Linked DNA regions of Homo sapiens: region 1 is linked to region 2. Evidence: fine-mapped expression QTL. Tissue or cell type: whole blood. Region 2 holds a variant in brackets; the other region holds the start of a gene. All regions are shown on one strand. Distances are between the middles of the regions.

Region 1 (8,092 bases), 94 kb after region 2:
GTAGGCAAATTAATGACCCTATTAAGTATAAATTTCAAGTTAAATCACTCCACATCACAGTATTAAGAATGCTAAAAAATTTACACATGTAAAAATGAATCATGCTTATAGTCACTCATTCCATTAGGCTATTCTAAATACTGACTTTGTGTATACACAGAAAAATGTAATTTTAAGTTGAATTACTTAAAGCCACACAGCAGTCTTATTATTTATGGCTGCATTTGGTAACAACAGTTTTGATCCTTAGACCATCTGTATCAAAATCCACCCATTCAGAGACTGATTCACTGTGGGGTACATCCTGGAGTTCTACCAGAACCTAATTTTAAAAAGATCTCCCAGTGATTTTTATGGATACTAAATTTTAAATAACTGCTATACCATAAGGATGCCTTAACCAGATTTTAAAATTTGCATTCCAGATAATGCACTACAATGTCCTTGCATGAAATGAAAATAATGCATATTGGCCGGGCGCGGTGGCTCACGCCTGTAATCCCAGCACTTTGGGAGGCTGAGGTGAGTGGATCACCTGAAGTCGGGAGTTCCAGACCAGCCTGACCAACATGGAGAAACCCTGTCTCTACTAAAAATACACAATTAGCCAGGCGTGGTGGTGCATGCCTGTGATCCCAGCTACTAGCGAGGCTGAGGCAGAAGAATTGCCCGAACCCAGGAGGTGGAAGTTGTGGTGACCTGAGATCGTGCCACTGCACTCTAGCCTGGGCAACAAGAGCGAGAATCTGTCTCAAAAAAAAAAAAAAAGGAAAAAGAAAATAATGCGTATTCACTTGGCACAACTAGGAAAAAGGCAACTTTGACCAAAAAAAATATATATATATATAAATATATATATATATACAGACTCTCAAAAGCCATTCAGTAATGGTGGAGAGTTCCTCTGAATTAAGCAAGTATTAATTTCTCTCCGGAGGGCATGGTGACTCTCTATTCTGTATTACTTCATTTCTCCAAAATCCATTCCTCTTCTGTTGTATGTGTAACAATTAGAACTCTGATGGACAACATGCAACATGATAACAGCAATTACTGAGAAGAATCTCTAAGTACCATCAACCAGTAGTATTTAAAACCCAGCAAGCCTCTCAAATCTGAATAACTTGCTGACGAAGTAAAGTGCCTCAAACATTTAAACGTTTGAGTTCAGGCCGGGCGCAGTGGCTCATGTCTGTAATCCCAAGGCTGAGATGGGCAGATCACTTGAGGTCAGGAATTCGAGACCAGCCTGGCCAACATGGTGAAACTCTGTCTTTACAAAAATACAAAAATTAGCCAGGTGTGGTGGTGAGCACCTGTAATCCCAGCTACTCGGGAGTGCGAGGCAGGAGAATCGCTTAAACCCAGGAGGTGGAAGCTGCAGTGAGCCGAGATCGCACCACTGCACTCCAGCCTGGGCGACAGAGCGAGACTCCGTCTCAAAAAAATAAAATAAATAAATAAATGCTTGTGTTTAGTAGAAGAAAGCTGATTATAAGAATTAACTCTGGCCGGGCGCGGTGGCTCACGCCTGTAATCCCAACACTTTGGGAGGCCAAGGCGGGTGGATTACCTGAGGTCAAGAGTTCAAGACCAACCTGGGCAACACAGTGAAACCCCATCTCTACTAAAAATACAAAATTCGCTGGACATGGTGGTGGGCGCCTGTGATCCCAGCTACTCGGGAGGCTGAGGCAGGAGAATCGCTTGAACCCAGGAGGCAGAGTTGCAGTGAGCCCATATAGCACCATTGCACTCCAGCCTGGGCAAAAAGAGCAAAACTCTGCCTAAAAAAAAAAAGTCACTGAGCTGACCCAATCTTCCTATTATAAAGACATACTAGAAGAAAACATAAGCAGGCACAGAAGCATAATCTTAAAAGAAAAAGAGTAAAAGACAAAAATAATACAAGCAAACCACACTTGCGACCTAGTGGCAGGACTGATTTCTTAGGGATGAATTCAATCTTTTGAGCCTCCCCGTTCTCAGAGAGGGGACTTCAGCCTCCCACGGCTCTCTAGCAACCCTTCTGGCTGACTGCAGGGAACGCAGGGGACGCGCAAAAGTAAAGGAACGAAAGCAAGGAAAGAGAGTCTCTTCCCGAGGAAAAAGACGGAATCTTGAAATGAGAGAAAACGAACAGCACGAAAGGGAAGAAACCTCGAAAAATTACGCCAGAGTGGGGACTACAAGGAGGAAGGGGAAGTACATTAGAAAAAAAGGGGGGGGTGGGGGGAGGAAGGGGCAAATGACTTGCATTACACAAGCATTTCGTGTCCCTAGTGGAAAGGACAGAAGCAGATAGAGAAGGAAGGAAATAACTGGAGAAAGAGGAGTAAGAAAGCCAAAATAGACTAATGCTAATTTCTCTCATGTGTCTGACATTTCGGAAAGTCAACAGCATCAAAAAGAGACAGACCTCAAGTGCACTTCAGTCCCCTGCAAACTGCACTTTCACAGCGTTTGAAGCCAGCCTTGAAAAACTTTCTAAACAAGCCATAACTCATGTGTGGCTTACAATCATAGAGAGGGCGCGCTGCAAATGAAAATTACCAGCGCCCGCTCTCGCCGCAATCCTTCCTCGGTGCAGTCCAACCTGCTACTGCTGAATTTTTCTTGACAAATATTTTTCAAATAGTTTTTTTTTTTAAGTGTCAGAATAAAGGTATCTCCCCCGGCTCCAGCAGCAAACGTTCCACCCCAAAGTGGATTCCCGCACAAAATTAAGCCCAAAGACGCCAGGAGATGGTGACGTGGTTGCCGTGCAGGTCGAAGGCACATCAATCACCACAGCTGCAGCCCACACCAGTCCCCCGCCGCCAGGCTCGGGTAGACTGACTCGGTCGGCGTTCGGCCCGCCTGGGCTTCCCGGGCCCCTTCCGTGCAAACCCTCCCGATGAAGGCAGGGGACCTCGCCAGAGAACCCCGACCTCTTCCCCCGGACTGCCCAGAGCCAAGAGCCGGAGGAGGACGGTCCCCAGGAAGGAAGCGCCCCAAAAGGGGAAACGTAGAGTCCGGAGCCCCGGGGATTGCGCTCCACGTCCCAAGCCTCGCCGCCCCGACGCGAACCCCGGGGCCGGTCCCGGTTCCCCCGGGGCCCACTCCCGCTGTAGAGCCAAGAGGAAAAGGCACGAGAGAGGCGCCGAGCGCAGCCTCCCGTACTCACCGTGGCGCAGCTGCTCCGCTCAGCGTCCGGCCCGCCCCTCCACAACGCTGCGAGCGGCCGGCGACCCCAAGGCTGCTCTGCGAGGGCAGCGCTTGCTCCCGCCGCCGTCACCGCCACAGGCACAGACTCTGCCACAGCCGCCGCCGCCGCTGCCGCCGCCCGGTCGCCGAAGCAGCAATACCTCCTGGCTTCCGCTCCCCGTCGGTGTCCCGCGAGAACTTCTCCACGAGGCCCCGCCCCGCCCCCGCGAGACTTCCCCCGGCGGAAAAGGCCCAGAGCGCAAGCGCTCCTCCTCAGCCGGGCCCCTGCGGGTAGGGAACCAGCTAGGTGTCAGGGCGCATGCGCCAGACCTCCCCGCAGCAGGTGGCCTCCGCACGGCTCCGCCCCCGGGTCGCCGTAACCCTCTCGGTGCCAGAGCGGGTAAATGACAGCTTAGCCCTGAAGGACTCTTCCCCCGTCTAATCACTTTATTTTCCTCTTCTACCAAACCTAGGCAGTTGGATGGGTAGGGGCTTGGGGGAGGAAGAGATCTTCCAGAATGAAGCACTCCAAATAGAGGACCAGGTCTTAAAATATTTGAGAATCCGGTCCGTACAAACTCTGCTGTGTTGAATGATTGGTGAGTTTGTTTGCTCATTGATTGAATCACTGCAGAGTTTGTACGGACCGGATTCTCCAATATAGGCCGAACACTGTGCTGGGGATAGAACAGAAATCTTGGCCCTTAAGGAATTCACGGTCTAGGAAGTAGAAGAAAAATAAACAAATAATGCCATAAGTACTGTTATAATTATTTGGAGTTTGCTGAGGAAGCTAAAAAAATGGAGGGGGTACTGCTACACTGCCCATTGCAGAAGAGCCTTCACAGATGTGATGCGGCGATGTCTGATCTGAGTCTTGGAGGATGAGTAGGAATTTGCCAGGCAGAGAAGCCAGAGTAAGGGCATTTCAGGGAAAGGGAATGGCACGTAAGTACAGAGGCTAAGTACAGAGGAACGGAGGCGTGAGAGAGAAAGTCGTGTTCTGTGCAGTGCTAAGTAGTTCAATTCCTGTATGAGGCCGGTGAGTACGGGGGAGTGGCAGAAGATGAGGCTTGGAGAAATAATTCTTATTTTTCAGTTCCCAAAGCTCTTCCAATTAAAGGATAGAACACAACACACCTAGCGTTACTGTGCCTTCTGGAAGCCAACAAAATAGCGCTGAGGTGAGAATAACCAAGCATCTGATTCTATAGAGAAAAGAAGCCCATTGAAACACAGAAAATGAATTGTGCTTTCACCAAGTATTTATTGAGCATCACCTGTGTGCAAGGGGCTCTGCAGGGTCAAAGACCAACCAGATGAAGCCCCTGCTTTCAGTGCTTTGTAATCTAGAGTTGCCTAATCTGTAAGACAAGCAGTTGGCCCCAAGTGCCACTGAACTACACATAGGGATGGCTGAGGAGGGAGCCAGTACTTGGTGCTGAGCTAATCAAGAAGGATTTGGTTTGAACGGCAAAGTGAAAGCAGGGAGGAAAGAGGAAAGAGTAATGGAATCAGCCTTTTGTTTTTTTTTTTTTTTTTTTTTTTTGAGACGGAGTTTTGCTCTTGTTGCCCAGGCTGGAGTGCAATGGTGCGCGATCTTGGCTCACCGCAAGCTCCGCCTCCCGGGTTCAAGGGATTCTCCTGCCTCAGCCTCCCGAGTAGCTGGGATTACAGGCATGTGCCACCACACCCAGCTAATTTTGTATTTCTAGTAGAGATGGGGTTTCTCCATGTTGGTCAGGCTGGTCTCAAACTCCTGACCTCAGGTGATCCGCCCACCTTGGCCTCCCAAAGTGCTGGGATTACAGGCGTGAGCCACCATGCCTGTTTTTTTGGTTTTTTTTTTTTTTTTGAGACTTGCACTGTTGCCCAGGCTGGAGTGGAGTGCAGTGGCATGATTTTGGCTCACTGCAACTTCCGCCTCCTGGGTTCAAGCATTCTCTCACCTCAGCCTCTCAAGTAGCTGAGATTACAGCAGCCTGCCACCACACCCAGCTAATTTTTGTATTTTTAATAGAGACAGGGTTTCGCCATGTTGGCCAGGCTGGTCTCGAACTCCTGACCTCAGGTGATCCACCTGCCTCAGCCTCTCAAAGTGCTGGGATTACAGATGTGAGCCAACACTCCTGGCCATCAACCAATGTTTTTGATTAGTCCAAGCCCCAGTAATTGGGGGGAAGAGTGATGAGAGAGAGGGGCCAAAATGCAAAATGCATGGCTTAGGTGTCATAGTCAAGTGATGGGCAACCTCTGAAGGTTTCTGAGCAGGAGGTGTCTGATATGAGGTGAAAATAAGAAAAGGACCCTCTATTTACCACTTGATGCATACTTAAGTCATAGCGCCTCCACAGGGTGGGTAATATCCCCATTTTACAGACTTGGAAACTAAGCCTTAGAGAGGTTAGTAATTTACCCAAGGAAGCCAAAATATAGTAGACCTAAGATTTGGACTAAGGCCTGTCTTGTTCTAAAATCCTCATTTTTTTCCCGCACTATGCCACTTTGTTCTAAAATAGCAGTCAGAAAAAAATAGAAATGGAAGGGAGGGACTTAGCTGCTAAGCAGAGAGGAAGACATGAGGGAAGAATTGCAGTTTTTTGTTTTGAGTGGGCCTGGATAACAGGGAGAACACAGAAATTTGCCAGTCAAGAGGCATAGCTGACTGGAGGGGGCAGGCACAGAGAACAGGGAAGGGCAGGTGAGGAGATGATTGTAAGGGTGAAGGGAATTTTTCCCTTCCACTCTGACAGTTTGAGTCTGCTGAAATAAACTGGCAATAGATTAACAGGAGAAAGCACATACAAATTTACTGACATGCAGTGTGCATGGTTACCATACAGAATATGAGACTCAGAGAAGAGCCAGGTGGCTGAAGCTTAAAGAGCACCATCTTTGCAGAGGAGAGGGAGATGAGCGGAGGTCAGCAATACTGAAAGGTAGTCAACTATTTTTAGGGAAAAGGAATGAGCCCAAACAATGCCTGGGACAAAGTTCCTCTGAGCTCTGGGAGCTGGAGGTTGTGACAAATTTCAGGAAGGTGAGGTGCAGGACTTCACTGTAAATAAAGGTTGTCTTATTATGCAGATAAAGTCTCCTAAATAATCTCAGCTGTCCTCAGGAGAATAGATGAAAAGTCTGTTTGGATGTGGTGACAACTTTTAGTCTTTTCTCTTCTCTGGTAGTTAATATTTCCTGGTTATTTGACGAGAGTCCTAGGGAGGAAATTTTAAGACAGTCGCATCTATTTTTTTTCTTTTCTTTTCTTTTTTTTTTTTTTGAGATGTAGTTTCACTCTTGTTGTCCAGGCTGGAGTGCAATGGCGTGATCTCAGCTCACCGAAACCTCCACCTCCCAGGTTCAAGTGATGCTCCTGCCTCAGCCTCCAGAGTAGCTGGCATTACAGGCATGCACCACCACGCCCGGCTAATTTTGTATGTTTAGCAGAGATGGGGCTTTTCCCTGTTGGTCAGGCTGGTCTCGAACTCCCGACCTCAGGTGATCCGCCCGCCTTGGCCTCCCAAAGTGCTGGGATCACAGGCGTGAGCCACCACACCTGCTCTTTTTCTTTCTTTCTTTTTTAATGGATCCCTTCACAGATTTGCATGTCTTCTTGCTCAGGGGCTATGCTAATCTCTGTATCATTCCAATTTTAGTATATGTGCTGCCAAAGCAAGTACACAATTGAATTTCTTTTGGTTTCTCAGTCAGCTAAGGGAACTTTCAGACAGCCCCTGCATGCATGTGGGGTGGTGAAACAAGACTTTAAAAAGTCCTTGGTTCTGAGGCAGCTTGTAAGTCCTTCCAATTTCCTTTCATTCAAAAGTGCTCAGAATGCCAGAGGAGCATACTTTGGGGTATCATTCTCTGAGCCCCAACATGATGATGACTCATTTTTGGAAATGCAGAATTCAGCATTCCAGGAGACATGCAGGTGGAAATATTCAGTATGCTGTTGAAAAGCTTGACAAGCTGGACGCAGCGTTCTCTCCCATAATCCCAGCACTTTGGGAGGCTGAGGCAGGTGGATCACTTGAAGTCAGGAGTTTGAGACCAGCCTAGCCAACATGGTGAAACCTCATCTCTACTAAAAATGCAAAAATTAGCCGGGCGTGGTGGCACATGCTTGTAACCCCAGCTACTCGGGAGGCTGAGGCAGGAGAATTGCTTGAACCCAGGAGGCGGAGGTTGCAGTAAGCAAAGATCATGCCACTGCACTCCAACCTGGGTGACAGAACCAGACTCCATCTCAAAAAAAAAAATAAATAAATAAATAAAAGAAAAGCTTAATGTACTCATTCATTCTCTTTGCCAACATTAACTAAGCATCTATTCTCTTTGTTTGTTTTTTTTTGTTTTTGAGACAGGGTCTCACTCTTGTCACCCAGGCTGGAGTGCAGTGGCGCAACCTCAGCTCACTGCAGCCTTGACTTCCCAGGCTCAGGTAATTCTCCCATCTGAGTCTCCCAAGTAGCCAGAACTACAGGCACATGCCGCCATGCCCAGCTAATTTTTTGTGTTATGTAAGTATGTATGTATGTACGTATGTATGTATGTATGTATGTATTGAGACAGGGTCTCACTCTGTTGCCCAGGCTGGAGTGCAGTGGCACGATCAGGGCTCACTGCAGCCTCAACCTCCTGGGCAAGAGATCCTCCTGCCTCAGCCCCCCAGTACCTGGGACAACAGTCATGCACCACCACGCTTGGCTAAATTTTTGTGTTTTTAGTAGAGATGGGTATCATCATGTTGGTTAGGTTGGTCTCAAACTCCTGGGCTCAGGCAATCTGCCCGCCTTGGCCTCCCAAAGTGCTAAGATTACAAGCGTGAGCCACCACGCCCAGCCTAGAGCATCTACTCTCTAGAGAGGAGGACAACCCTCCACAGAGTCTGCAGCCTGAAGGG
Region 2 (8,104 bases):
GGCACAGCGGCTCACGCCTGTAATCCCAGCACTTTGGAGGGCCAGTGCAGGGGGATCGATTGAGCTCAGGAGTTGGAGACCAGCCTGGGCAACATGGTGAAACCCTATCACTACTAAAAATACAAAAATTTAGCCGGACATGGTGGTGTGTGTCTGTGGTCCCAGCTACTTGGGAGGCTGACGTGGTAGGATTGGTTGAGCCCAGGAGGTGGAGGTTGCAGTGAGCTGAGGTTTTGCCTGTGATCTGGGAGAAAGGTAGATGCTGACCAAAGGCAAAGACTCAGAAGGGATTTGGTTGGCCAAAGGCTTGGAGAATTGGACCAGGTGCAGACTGTATGAGATCTTGAATGCCAAGATCCTAATCAGCACCTGTCACGATGTACTTAATCGTTGCAGTTGCAAAACACCCGTGTACATAATCACGTTGGATCCTCAGAGCAACCTAGGGACATTTTCCTTGGTTTGATTTTTAAACAGATGAAGGAATGGGGGTGAGAGGTTAAGGGCCCTGGTCGTGGCCAGGCGCCATGGCTCACGCCAGTAATCCCAGCAATTTGGGAGGCTGAGGTGGGTGGATCACTTGAGGCCAAGAGTTCAAGATCAGCCTGGGCAACACAGCGAAACCCCGTTTCTATTAAAAATACAAACAACCAGCCAGACATGGTGGAACGTGCCTGTAATCCTAACTCGGGAAGCTGAGGTGGGAGAATCGCTTGAACCCGGGAGGCGGAGGTTGCAGTGAGCTGGGATTGCATCACTGCACTCCAGCTTGGGCGATAGAGTCTTGCTCTGTTTCAAAAAAAAAAAAAAAAAAAAAAAGGAAGAAAAAAGGAGAAAAAGGGGGCCCTGGTCACACAGCGAGGAATAAAGGCCCTGGCCTCAGGCCTGCGATCTCATGCTCTTTGTCCTACATCACACTGCTCCTGAGGGGCAGGAGCCTGGACTTTGCCCTCTTTGGACAGGCTGGGGAAAGAGGCAGGGTGGAGAGACAGGAGGAGGTTTTGTGGCAGTGGGGAGAGGGGGACGAAGGGCCGGGACCAGGATGGTACCAGGGAGCATTTCCCTGCAGCCCTGTCCCTGGAGCCCTGTGGCGTCCCTGGTGCTGTGGACTCTTGGCTCACCTCCTGCCGCTCTGGCCTCTCTCCTGTGTGCTTCCTGCCTTCCCCTCGCCCAGCCCTCAGGGCTGTGCTTCCTTATGGGGACTGGAGTATGTGAGGCCTCACCCGTGGCCATGGTTTCAGGGCCACCTCCACACTGACAACACCTGGATCTCGATCTCCTGTCAGATCTGTCTCCTGAGCTCCAGGTGAACACACCCTGCTGCTTTCTAGATGATTGTCCTCAGGCACCTCAAATCCAACCCTCCAGCCTTTCTCTCTGCTTCACCCCACCCTGCCCCTCTTCCCCTAGTTCCCCATCTCAACAAACAAAAGCCACAGATCCCCCCACTGCCCTGCAGCCATCTGGACCTGCCTTTCCCTCCACCCCAGGTCTTCCCAGCTCCTCCTAAATACAGCTCAACGCCCTTGGCCCTCTGCCACTCCCTTCACTGGGACAACATCAGCAGTTTCTTTATTTTTTTTAGACGGAGTCTCACTCTGTTGCCCAGGCTGGAGTGCAATGGTGTGATCTTGGCTCACTGCAACCTCCGCCTCCCGGGTTCAAGTGATTCTCCTGCCTCAGCCTCCTGAGTAGCTGGGACTACAGGCACACGCAACCACGCCTGGCTAATTTTTGTATTTTTAGTAGAGACAAGGTTTCACCATATTGGCCCGGCTAGTCTCAAACTCCTGACCTCTGGTGATCCACCCACCTCGGCCTCCCAAAGTGCTGGGATTACACAGCTGGCTAATTTTTGTTATTTCTTGTAGGGGCAAGGTTTTGCCATGTTGCCCAGGCTGGGGTATATGGTTTCTTTTGGGGTATGACAGTGTTCTAAAATGGATTGTGGTGGCTGGCACAGTGGATCATGTCTGTAATCCCAGCACTTTGGGAGGCCAAGGTGGGAGGGTCGCTTGAGGACAGGAGTTTGAGACCAGCCTGAGCAACATAGTGAGACCCTGTCTCTACTAAAAAACATAAAATAAAATGGATTGTGGTGATGATTGCATAACTGTGAATACTAAAAAACATTGAATAATATACTTTAGATGGGTCACTTAAAAATGTTACATTGATCATATCTCCATAAAACTTTTTTTTTTTTTTTTTTTTGAGACAGAGTCTCGCTCTGTCGCCCAGGCTGGAGTGCAGTGACGCCATCTCGGCTTGCTGCAACCTCTGCCTCCCAGGTTCAAGTGATTCTCCTGCTTTAGCCTCCTGTGCAGCTGGAATTACAGGCGTGGGCCACCATGCCCGGCTAATTTTTGTATTTTTAGTAGAGACTGGGTTTCACCAGGTTGGCCAGGCTGGTTGTGAACTCCTGACCTCAGGTGATCTGGCCCCCTCGGCCTCCAAAAGTGCTGGGATTACAGGCATGAGTCACCATGCTCGGCCTAAAATCTTCAAAAAATTTTAAAATTCGCTAGGTGTGGTGGTACCACCTGTAGTCCCAGTTCCTTGGGAGATTGAGGTGGGAGGATGGCTTGAGCCCAGGAGTTTGAGGCTGCAGTGAGCTATGATCACACCACTGCACTCCAGGCTGGGCCATGGAGCAAGACTCTTGTCTCTTAAAAAAAAAAAAAAAAATTGGCTGGGTGCGGTGGCTCATGCCTGTAATCCCAGCACTTTAGGAGGCCGAGGAGAGTGGATCACCTGAGGCTGGGAGTTCGAGACCAGCCTGATCAACATGGAGAAACCCCCGTCTCTACTAAAAATACAAAATTAGCCAAGTGTGATGGCTCATGCCTATAATCCCAGTTACTCGGGAGGCTGAGGCAGAAGAATCGCTTGAACCCAGGAGCTGGAGGTTGTGGTGAGCCGAGATTGCACCATTGCACTCCAGCCTGGGCAACAAGAGCAAAACTCCGTCTCAAAAAAAAAAAAAAAAAAAAAAAAAAGGCTGAGCACAGTAGCTCATGCCTGTAATCCCAGCATTTTGGGAGGCCGAGGCAGGCAGATCACTTGAGGTCAGGAGTTCGAGACCAGCCTGGCCAAATTGGTGAAACCCCGTCTCTACTAAAAATACAAAAATTAGGCCACGGGCCAGGCACGGTGGCTCACTCTTGTAATCCCAGCCCTTTGAGAGGCCAAGGCAGGTGGATCACGAGGTCAAGAGTTCAAGACCAGCCTGGCCAGCATGGTGAAACCCCATCTGTACTAAAACTACAAAAAAATTAGCTGGGCATGGTGGCATGCCTGTTGTCCCAGCTACTCGGGAGGCTGAGGCTGAAGAATTCCTTGAACCCGGCAGGCAGAGGTTACAGTGAGCCGAGATTGTGCCACTGCACTCCAGCTTGGGCGACAGAGTGAGACTCCATCTCAAAAAAAAAAAAAAAAAAATTAGGCAAGGTGGCGGGTGCCTATAGTCCCATCTACTCAAGAGGCTGAGGCAGGAGAATCACTTGAACCCAGGAGGCGGAGGTTGGAGTGAGCAGAGATCGTGCCACTGCACTCCAGAGTAAGACTCTGTCTCAGAAAAAAAAAAAAAAAAAAAAAAAAGGCCAAGTGTGGTGGCTTATGCCTTTAATCCCAACACTTTGGGAGGCTGAGGCGGGAGGATCCCTTGAGTGCAGGAGTTCAAGACTAGTCTGGGCAATATAGTGAGACCCCATCTCTGTGAAATTTTTTTTAATTAGCTGGGCATGGTGGTGCGCACGTCCAGCTACTCGGGAGGTTGAGGCGGGAGGATCACTTGAGCACAGGACTTCAAGCAAGCAGTGAGCTATGATCATGCCACTGCACTCCAGCCTGAGACAAAGCAAGACTTCGTCTCAAAAAAAAAAAAAAAAAAAAAAAAAAAAAGACATTCAGAGAGAAATTGGCTTGTCCTATGCAGCTAGGTCTGGAGAGTGGGGTTCGTGCCGAAGAGCCAGCCCCATCTGTAAGGAGATGGCGCAGATGCTGGTCTTA[C/T]GAAAGCTGTCACTGCTGCTTCCTTCTATTTTAGATGACAAGCAATTCTACTTCCTTTTCCAAAACCTCATATTTTTTTCTTTTCTTTTTTTTTTTTTTGAGACAGAGCTTCACTCTTGTTGCCCAGGCTGGAGTGCAATGGCATGATCTTGGCTCACCGCAACCTCCACCTCCTGAGTTCAAGTGATTCTCCTGCCTCAGCCTCCTGAGTAGCTGGGATTACAGGCATGCACCACCATGCCCAGCTAATTTTGTATTTTTAGTAGAGATGGGGTTTCTCCATGTTGGTCAGGCTAGTTTCAAACTCCCAACCTCAGGTGATCTGTCCGCCTCGGCCTCCCAAAGTGCTGGGATTACAGGCGTGAGCCACCGTGCCCGGCCAAAACCTCCTATTTTTTGCTGGGCCTCTCAAGTTTCTCCCCAGGTCCTATCCCCAGCATTGTCCCTGGATAGGCAGTGTGGCTGCTGTAACAGACAACCCTCCTCCCCCCGTCAGTGATGCAACACAGCTGATATTTGTTTCATTTTTTTGAGACGAGGTCTCGGTCTCTGCTGCCCAGGCTGGAGTGCAGTGGCAGAATCATGGCTCACTGTAGCCTCGACCTTCCAGACTCAGGCAATCCTCCTGCCTCAGCCTCTTTGAGTAGCTGGGACTACAGGAGCACACCACTGAGTCTGTCTAATTTTTTGTAGAGACAGGGTCTCACTATATTGCCAGACTGTTCTCAATCTCTTGGGCTAAAGTGATCCTCCCAAAGTGCTGGGATTACAGGCATGAGCCACTGTGCCCCGCCCCAGACATGTTCCAAATCTAGCAGGTGCTCTGGGTCTTCTGCTGGCTCTCCTGCATCCACCCACAGGCAAGAGAAGCAACAAAGTGGGGAGGCCACAAGGCCCCAAACACACCACACACGTCAGGACTGGAGCACATGGCTGCTTGGAACTGCAGGGAGGTTGGGCACATGGTCCAGACAACTGGTCGGGAGAGAGCCAGGTGAGCACTGCGCACACTCTGCTGCAGAGCCTGACTTCACTCAGCTAACACGACCCTAGCCTCTTCCAGGCTATCCGGATTCTGGTCTCCGCACCACTGCAAGTCAGATGTTCCTAAAACTTATCTTTCATCGTACCGCTGATCTATAAGAGCTACAGAAGCAGCCAGGCATGGTGGCTCACACCTGTAATCCCAGCACTTTGGGAGGCTGGGGCGGGTGGATCACCTGAGGTCGGGAGTTTGAGATCAGCCTGGCCAACATGGCAAAACCCCATCTCTACTAAAAATACAAAAATTAGCTGGGCATGGTGGTGCACACCTGTAATCCCAGCTACTGGAGAGGCTGAGGAAGGAGAATTGCTTGAGCCCAAGAGGCAGAGGTTGCAGTGAGCTGAGATCGTGCCACGGCACTCCAGCCTGGGTGAGTGAGACTCTGTTTAAAAAAAAAAAAAAAAAAAAAAGCTACAGAAGCCTCCTGTGTCAACAGGCAGAATGGGCATCGCTCAGCCTGCATTCGAGTCCCCCACAAACCCCACCTGGGCTCTTTCTTCCTCGTTGCAGGAGGCTACTCAGGCTCCCTCAAGCCATGTCCAGGCAGGTGCTCGCTAACACCGCCACGCCTCTACTAGACCACCTGCTCTGGGTGTCTACTGTCCTATTAGTAACTGTCCAAACTCATTTCACCCAATCCCCAGGGCAAGTCCCATCTGCCTCCAAGCCTCCCTTTGAGCCTGTGCTGTCTACATTTCCTCTTTGAGTCTCTCTCATGCAAGGGCTTGCATAATACAAGGATCAGGACTGAAGAGTGCGTCTGTGTCAAGGACAGAAGGCTCCAGTGGGGCAGTTTCCAGTTTCAGGGTGACTCAGGGCAGCAATGCCACCGTGCAGGAATGGAAAGCGGTGGTTGATGGTGTGAGAAGACACGGGGGCCCTCCTCAGCCTCCAGTTAGAGGGGAGATAATTGCCTCCAATTCCACACGCCCCAGGAATGACGTTCACCATCAATCCCTACAGGTGTGGGCAACACATGTGTAACAGAGTAAATGAAAAAGGGTACACCCTCGCCCCTTGCTTCCCTAGCACAGCGCAGGATGAGGGGTGGGGTTACAGCAGGAGGCAAACATCCACCCTTTCACCCCAGGCTCGGGCCCTTGCACAGGCCTGCAGCACGAGGCGAGCCCTCAGGACCTGGCAGCTGCTATTTTGGAGGCCAACACTGCTGACGCCACGACTCACACTCAGAGAATGGCTGCAATAGCTGTGCTTTCTCAACCCGAATCCAGGAATGTTAAAAAAAAAAAAGGCTGGGGCAGGGCCTGGTGGCTCACGCCTGTAATCCCAGCACTTTAGAGGCCAAGGTGGGCAGATCACGAGGTCAGGAGATCAAGACCATCGTGGCCAACATGGTGAAACCCCATCTCTACTAAAAATACAAAAATTAGCTGGGTGTGGTGGCGGGCGCCTGTAGTCCGAGCTATTCGGGAAGCTGAGGCAGCAGAATCGCTTGCACCCAGGAAGCGGAGGTTGCAATGAGCTGAGATGGCGCCACTGTACTCCAGCAACAGAGCCAGACTCCAACTGAAAAAAAAAAAAGAAAAAAGAAAAAAAGAAGGCTGTCCTTGGAGACCTAAGACCAGTGTTGCTCTTGGGTGGGCCAGAGTTGAGACTTAAAATACGTCTTAGTGATTTCTTTTTTGGACGGGGTATAGTATGGCTTTTAGTGTTAGTTTTAAAAGTAGTGTTTGGAATGCACTAAGCAGTAAGTGGCTTAATCAATATCACTAACATGTAATATTGATCTATCAGTGCTGTTGGCACACAGAATTGTACTCTTTTTTTTTTGAGACGGAGTCTCACTCTGTCGCCCAGGCTGGAGTGTGATGGCGCGATCTCGGCTCACTGCAACCTCTGCCTCCCGGGTTCAAGCGATTCTCCTGACTCAGCCTGCCGAGTAGCTGTGATTACAGGTGCCCGCCACCACGCCCACCTAATTTTTGTATTTTTAGTAGAGACAGGGTTTCACCACGTTGGCCAGGCTGGTCTTGAACTCCTGACCCCAGGTACAAAAATTAGCTGGGCGTGGTGGCAGGAGCTGGTTATCCCAGCTACTTAGGAGGGTGAGGCAGGAGAATCACTTGAACCCGGGAGGTGGAGGTTGCAGTGAGCCAAGATCGTGCCACTGCATTCCAGCCTAGGGGACAGACGGAGACTCTGTCTCAAAAAAAAAAAAAAGAAAAAAAAAGTATTTCCAAGACGCATAAAACAGGTCCACTGTCATTTTTTCCAGTTATCCAGGAACTTCCATAAAGCGAACGTTTTGGGCTGAAGGTCACCCACCCCATGAACAGTCAGGTGGAACTAGTGCCCAGGGAAGGCAGGCAGCCTGCGCCATCATGGCCTTTGGCTCAGAGGCCACCTAAGCAGCCCCGCGCTGTGGGTCACCATCTCCTCCACACTCAAGTCTGAAGGTGAGCCTGTCAGGGGCTCCCAGCTCACTGGGTGGAGGGAAGCGTGTCAGGGAGGGGTGGGGGGGGCGTGCCCTGAAGAGCGAGGCCATGCGCCTACCTCCAGCTTTTCCCCTGACACACTGAGCGACTCCCGGCTGCACGCCGGCCACAGGGCTCCTGTAAGATGCTGGGAGGCTTCCCAAGGCACCCCGCCCAGATGTCTTCCCAGGAATCCCGGATCCCTGAGGAGGGAGATACCATCACTAAGAAATCTGTGACCAAACTGCTGATCACAGAAAAGGAGTGATTTTCCCATTAATTCTGAAACAGTCAGTCAAACGCGAGGGAGGGGACAAATTGAGCAAAAAGCCTCAAATGAGGCTAAATGAGTCACCACGCCCGGCCTTTTCAATTACATAGCTCCATTTTGTAAACTTCTGCTCAGCTTCAAGGAGGCCAGCCCAAGTGGACCACAGGACTAGCAGTCTTGACTCTTGCTGGGTCAAGATCCTTCCCACACATGACTGCTGCAGGGGAAGGTCAAAAACGTCCCAGGCCAGGCACAGCTCACGCCTGGATTTCCAGCACTTTGAAAGGCCAAGGGTGGGGGGATCTCTTGAGCCCAGGAGTCTGAGACCAGCCTGGGAAACAC

What was found. PIP is the estimated chance that this variant, and not a neighbour inherited with it, causes the effect.
Region 1: it holds the start of GRB2, and the variant in region 2 is fine-mapped to the expression of GRB2 in whole blood (INTERVAL, PIP 0.92).

Annotation. Positions count from the first base shown.
Region 1 is chr17:75,402,323-75,410,414 of GRCh38, forward strand. It overlaps GRB2 (growth factor receptor bound protein 2), which reads right to left and starts at 3,356. Exons shown (of 6, transcript NM_002086.5): 1 at 3,167-3,356. MIR3678 (microRNA 3678) reads left to right here and starts at 3,747; the gene lies at 3,747-3,840. It also overlaps the pseudogene RNU6-938P. RefSeq lists a silencer at 3,414-3,593.
Region 2 is chr17:75,308,254-75,316,357 of GRCh38, forward strand. No RefSeq gene overlaps it. Among named protein-coding and RNA genes, the nearest start is that of SLC25A19, 23 kb to the left of the region's middle. RefSeq lists an enhancer at 7,742-7,891. The variant C/T (reference allele first, on the strand shown) is at 4,012.